Homo sapiens: one gene and its partner. The protein of the gene in region 2 interacts with the protein of the main gene of each other region in a pairwise test. Each region holds a gene or a part of one and is shown on either strand. Other genes may lie near its edges.

Region 1 (2,758 bases), on a different chromosome or scaffold from region 2:
TTTGTGTGGATTTGCTCTGATGTGTTTGTTAAAATCAGCCAACCACATTCACTACTTTGCAGCCACTCCATGTGTGTGTATGCATAGCCGTGGAGTGAGGAGACGGCAAGTGTTCCAGGGGCAGACGCCCAGGAGAAACCCAGAGAGAGGGGTGCAGAGACGCGGAGGAAGAAGCAGAGACAGGGAGAGAGTTAGCACAGCCAGCTCCGGGCCCAAACCCACCTGCCTTCTGGATGTGGGCGAGCTCCTTGGTGACGGTGGCCGAGGTGCTGAGTCCACACAGGTTTTCTGAGAAGACCCGGAAGGAGTACGAGTTGCCGATGATGAGGTCAGAGATGGTGCAGGTGGTTGGGTGGTAGCGCTCCAGCACTGTGAACCATTGCTGCAGGGCCCCGGGTGTCACCCTCATTTCTCACCCCTGTCCTCACCCTCCCTGCTTACCCTGGAGACCTTTCCTCACAGGAACTCATTCCATGCCCCCAACCTTAGGATGCTGAACCATCCAGCTTTGGGCCTCAGGGACATTGAATTGGAAGAAGGGGCCCCTGGGTCACTCAGGTGACCTCTGTAGGGTCCTCAGAGAATCCTAGAGCCTTTGTGTGCAAAGTGTGGCCCATGGATGTGCAACTTCAGCATCACCTGGAAACGTCTTAGAAATGCAGGCCCTCAGCCCCCACCCTGGACCTACTGAGTCAGACTCTGCCTCTTAGCAAGCTCCCCAGGTGACTCATGTGGACATTAAGATTTGAGAAGCATGGCTCCAGAACTTGAAAGGCTTCAGACAGCCCGGGCCAGCCCTCTTCACAGTCTTCAGGAGGCATCTGAGGTCCAGAGAGGAAGAGTCTTGCTAAGGGCCTCCTAGGGAGTCAGGTTAGCAGTGGGCAGACCAGAACTCGATCCCTAGACTCGGTCCCTAGACTCAGTGGGATGGGCCTTCCCCACCACCTTGACCACTTCGTACCCCGACCCCACTTTGCCTCAGCCAGCCTCACCCCTGTCTTTTTGTCTGCCTTCTGCACCATGTAGCCCAGGAGCTCTGTGTTGCCTGTGTCCTGGGGTGGCGTCCACTGAAGAGCAGCATTGCAGCCCCAGACGTCCAGGAGCCTGATGCTGCTGGGGGGTCCAGGTTTCTCTGTAGGCCCAGAGTGTGAGAGGAAGTGAGTGTGAGGGCCAGGCTGGCCACAGAGCCCCCACACCCAAAATTTGGCTCTTGCCACACTCCCTTGGCCTGCTCCCATCAGCCATCAGCTCTGGGATAGGAGGTTGGGGGCTCCAGGTCCCCCATGAGACAGCACTGTTCCCCTGGCTCCATACCAATCACCAGGATGTCAATGACTGCCTTGGCCTCCAGGTCTTCCACGCGCACAGTGAGCTCGTAGCGGCCAGAGTCGGAGCGCTGGGCCGAGCGAATGAAGAGGATGGAGTCCTGGTCCCCGGTGCGCATGCTCACCCGCTGGCTGTCCAGGGCATGGCCGTTGTGGGTCCATGTGGCCTGAGGCTTAGGCTTCCCCTGGCAGGGAGGAGCCCCCAGGGTGAGTGTAGGGAGGTGCCAGAGTCCCCACACCTCCTTAACTCCAGGAGTCTCTGGAGCTGTTCTCGGGGAAGCCTGTCCCACTGGCCCTTCTCAGGAGGGGCAGCAGAGGCTGGAGCCACAGGTGCTGCCCACAGCCACATCTTCCAGGTGTCCATCCCGCTCTGGGGGCCCACCTGCCCATCCACAGGCTGAGAATCACCAATGAGTCATGTGCATGATTGCGGAAGGATGAAGCCGTCTCGCTGGGTCTCAGCTGGACCCTTGGAGACCCTGCCATCTCCCAGGCTCCCCTTAAATGGGGGCCCTGGTTCCCACCCAGGCTGTTACCCTTGGTGGGGGTAATACCCACCTGGAAGGGGATTTGCAGGTTGACCGTCTCTCCCACCTGGCGGATGTAGGTCTGACGGAGGTGGCGGGGGACACGGATCTTGGGGGCCTCTGGATCAAAGCAAGAGTCTGGGCTTAGCAGTGCAGTGGGGTGGCTGATTGGGGTTTCTGAGATGGGGCAGGGGACAGCTGGTGAGGGATGCTGGCTGGGAGGAGGGTCCTGGGTGTGCCTGGCTGCCATGGGGTCCCTCCTTGCAGGAAGGGTGAAGCTCTCACTCCTGAGGTCTAGGGGCCCAAATCCCTTAAGGGAGCAGGAGGTTTCAGGAGGTCAGCGCCTCCATGGTGTGAACTGGTAAGCATCCTGGGCACTCCCTTGGCGCCTCGACTCTGCCAGGATGGGATTTGTCCTGCAGCCCAGGCATTCCCAAGCACCAGATGGGCCCCAGCTGACTCTCTGTCTCCCCCTGCTGGGGAGCAGGTGCTGCACCTGTCAGGCTGCACTTCTAGGAAGGGGAGGCCACTGCCGTCTTCCTGCTCTAATATCCCCAGCTCTCCACAAGCCCAGGACTTTCAGAGAAGCCTTTGTGAAACCCTGTTTGTCCATTCCTCTGTCTCCAGGCCCTATTGAAAGGTTTAGGATCTTTCTCTTCCCAAGTGAAGCCAGGGCGGGTATCCCCCCTTCTTCCTCTGTCACCCTCCCAAAATCTGTTAGTCTCAGAGCCGGGAAGTCCTTCTTGAAGTCCTATTTCAGCTGCCTGCTATGCTAAGGAATGACATTCTGACCCTCATCTGGTCAGGGGCAACCACTGAAGCCCCTGGGCATTCTAAGGGAAGCTGCAGTGGCCACCATCCCTGTCCCCTGGGGTGGGTGCTGGGTCCATGACTGAGGCTCCTCAG
Region 2 (2,842 bases):
CTGCACACCCTGAGTAAGGGAAGAACCCAGAGATACGGGAGAAAGAGACAGGTGTCTTGGTACCCAGTCTGTGATGTGACTAAAGTGCAGGGGAGGTGGAGAGCAGGGGACCATCCTCACTAGACCAAGATGAGGAGTACCTGAATTGTATTGCTTGGCGCTTTGCTTCCTCTACTTCTCATGAAGATTGGCTTGTTGTCCTGTGTCCCTGTTGAGCTGGTTGCTCTGAGACGCAAAGCCTCTTCTCCCTCCTGGATCTGGCTGATTTCCTTTCTTTGAGGTGAGCTCTGCTCTTTTTCAGGGGTTCTCCAGGACAAGGACCTCTTCTCTGTCTTCGCTGATCCCAATATGCTTGATACGTAAGTGTACCTGTCCTATTAGAGGGTACCTTCTCTCTCCTCGTGCTCAGGCCAGAAGCCTAATTGTCACCCTGCAGTCTGCTCTGGGAGCCCATCCATAGTCTGTCACCAAGTCTACCCCTTAGATACGTCAGGGGGTGAGAAAGAGCAAAGCCCAAGAGCAGGGCTTTTGTCAAGAGTGCTGGGAGGAAGCAGGATTCTGAGGGAAAGGGTCTTGTCTGCCAGGCTCAGTTTAGGTTTCGTGTGGTAGAAATTAGGGAGCTTTTCAAGGATTTTAAGCTGGCAAAAGGAGAAGCAGGTGTACAGATCCGTAAAGTGTCAAAGCTAAAAGGGACATGTCCTCATTTTGCAAGTGAAGAAAACAGCCCCACCCTGGGAAGAGAAGGGACCAGTCCAGGGTTGCCTGATGTAGTAGTGGTGCCTAGACCAGACACTCCTCATGTGCTCAGGCCAGAACCCTGAGCCTCCCAGGCTGCACCTTTCCCATCATGCCTTGCCTGTGGAGAGGGTGAAGAATCTGCAGCGGACCCCAGGAATTTGAAGGCCTTGCACCCGTTGCTGGGGGCAGATCAGCAGGAGGATAAAGCTTCCTGGTGGAAGATGCTAAAGACTGAGGAATTTGAGAGCAGGCACAGGTGGCTGCATTGTTGTGAGGGGGCACCCAGAACTCCTGTTATGGCTGAGGGTGCTCTTTTGGAGTCACCCTTGGGTTTCTTCCTGCTTCTATCCTAGGTTGGTGCCTGCTCACCCAGCCCTCGTCAATGCCATTGTCCTGGTTCTGCACTCCGTAGCAGGCAGTGCCCCAATGCCTGGGACTGACTCCTCTTCCCGGAGCATGCCCTCCAGCTCATACCGGGATATGCCAGGTGAGCGCCTGAAAAGTGTAATGTGGGCCCCTCAGGAGCCGGCAGTGGCCCAGGAATTTGCTTTACTCAGCAGCTATGTATAGCGTTGGCAGAGGGCGTTCCTTGGGAACTCTCGGTTTGAGTCAGGAAGTGCATCTGTCCTGTAATTTTCCGAGGGGAGAGATGAAAATATGAATTTGGAGAGTAACTTGAGCTGAGATTCTGGAGCTGCGCCTGTGCCTTTCTGTTCTTCCTCCTGAAATCTGTTCGTCCTCCTCCAGGTGGCTTCCTGTTTGAAGGGCTCTCAGATGATGAGGATGACTTTCACCCAGTAAGTGGCCTGCCTGCCTGCCTGACATGCTGACATGTGGGGGAGATGGTGCTGGGAATGAGCTGCATCCTGGGACCTGGCACTCCCAAGGCTGGGAGATGGACATACGCCATTGGGGGGCCAAGACCATGTCATACTATTTCTGCTTTTGGATTCCTTTCTGAACCTGGGAACTTAAGAGTTTCCCCAAGAACTATTGCTGGAGGTGGGTGGAGTTCATCTGGGAGTTTCACAGTACTGCTTCCCTGATTCTGAGTGTCTTCTTTCTCCAGAACACCAGGTCCACACCCTCTAGCAGTACTCCCAGCTCCCGCCCAGCCTCCCTGGGGTACAGTGGAGCTGCTGGGCCCCGGCCCATCACCCAGAGTGAGCTGGCCACCGCCTTGGCCCTGGCCAGCACTCCGGAGAGCAGCTCTCACACACCGACTCCTGGCACCCAGGTATGAAGACGGGGCCGGGAAGATCAAGGCTGGGCCCCCAAGGAACAAGCTCCCCAGCAGTAGAGTAGATTTGCCTTTGCTGACCCTGGTGCTAGATCTAGTTTAAGCTGAACCCTGGAGTCCTGGTGGGGATTTCTTACTGCAGCTTGAGTGACCTCCCCTTCACTTGCCTTGAGGACTCAGAAGTCTAGATTTTAACATGGTCCCGTGTAGTCCCCCCTATTAGTTCAGAAGACTCTTCCTGCACACAATATGCCCTTCCTCATCCCTGACAGGGAGCAGACATCACCAGCTTAAGCATTTCTGGGTGACAAGTCACTTCAGCTTTCAAGGCCATCTCTCCCAGTGCTGCAGTGCTGGGGTCCTAGGCTGGGACAAGGGGCTCAGTGCAGAAGAGAATGGAACCTTTCCTGCCCACATAGAGAGCTTCTAGTTACCTTTGTTTGGTTGTCTTATGGCAGGTCTTTGTTGGGAGGCAGAAGTTGGGTACCTCAGGAGTGCTGTGAGGTGATATGACAACAGCGAGCATCTGCTATAAGATTGAGATGGCGCTGAGGGTGGCACTGACCACTAATTTGTCTCTAGGGTCATTCCTCAGGGACCTCACCAATGTCCTCTGGTGTCCAGTCAGGGACGCCCATCACCAATGATCTCTTCAGCCAAGCCCTACAGCATGCCCTTCAGGCCTCTGGGCAGCCCAGCCTTCAGGTCAGTCTTCCCCACGTCTTGGTTTCCATGTGGCTTCCTTGTTATTTTGGATGCCCAGCCTTTGTTTTGCTCTCTGGCGGTCCTTCACACCTGGCATGCTTCATTCTAGGAACAGCTGGAGCATGGCAGTGGGACAGGTGCAGAGTGTTCCTAGCAAGG

What was found.
Region 1: the proteins of UBL7 (region 2) and MYBPH interact in a two-hybrid assay, tested with the Homo sapiens proteins (one large-scale study listed by BioGRID and IntAct).

The regions. Positions count from the first base shown.
Region 1 is NC_000001.11:203,170,069-203,172,826, forward strand, and holds part of MYBPH (myosin-binding protein H), read right to left. Parts: intron 1,973-2,758; coding exon 1,884-1,972; intron 1,511-1,883; coding exon 1,315-1,510; intron 1,133-1,314; coding exon 993-1,132; intron 383-992; coding exon 223-382; intron 1-222. UniProt on the Homo sapiens protein: Binds to myosin; probably involved in interaction with thick myofilaments in the A-band.
Region 2 is NC_000015.10:74,448,319-74,451,160, reverse strand, and holds part of UBL7 (ubiquitin-like protein 7), read left to right. Parts: intron 1-301; coding exon 302-359; intron 360-1,091; coding exon 1,092-1,225; intron 1,226-1,485; coding exon 1,486-1,535; intron 1,536-1,807; coding exon 1,808-1,975; intron 1,976-2,560; coding exon 2,561-2,683; intron 2,684-2,842.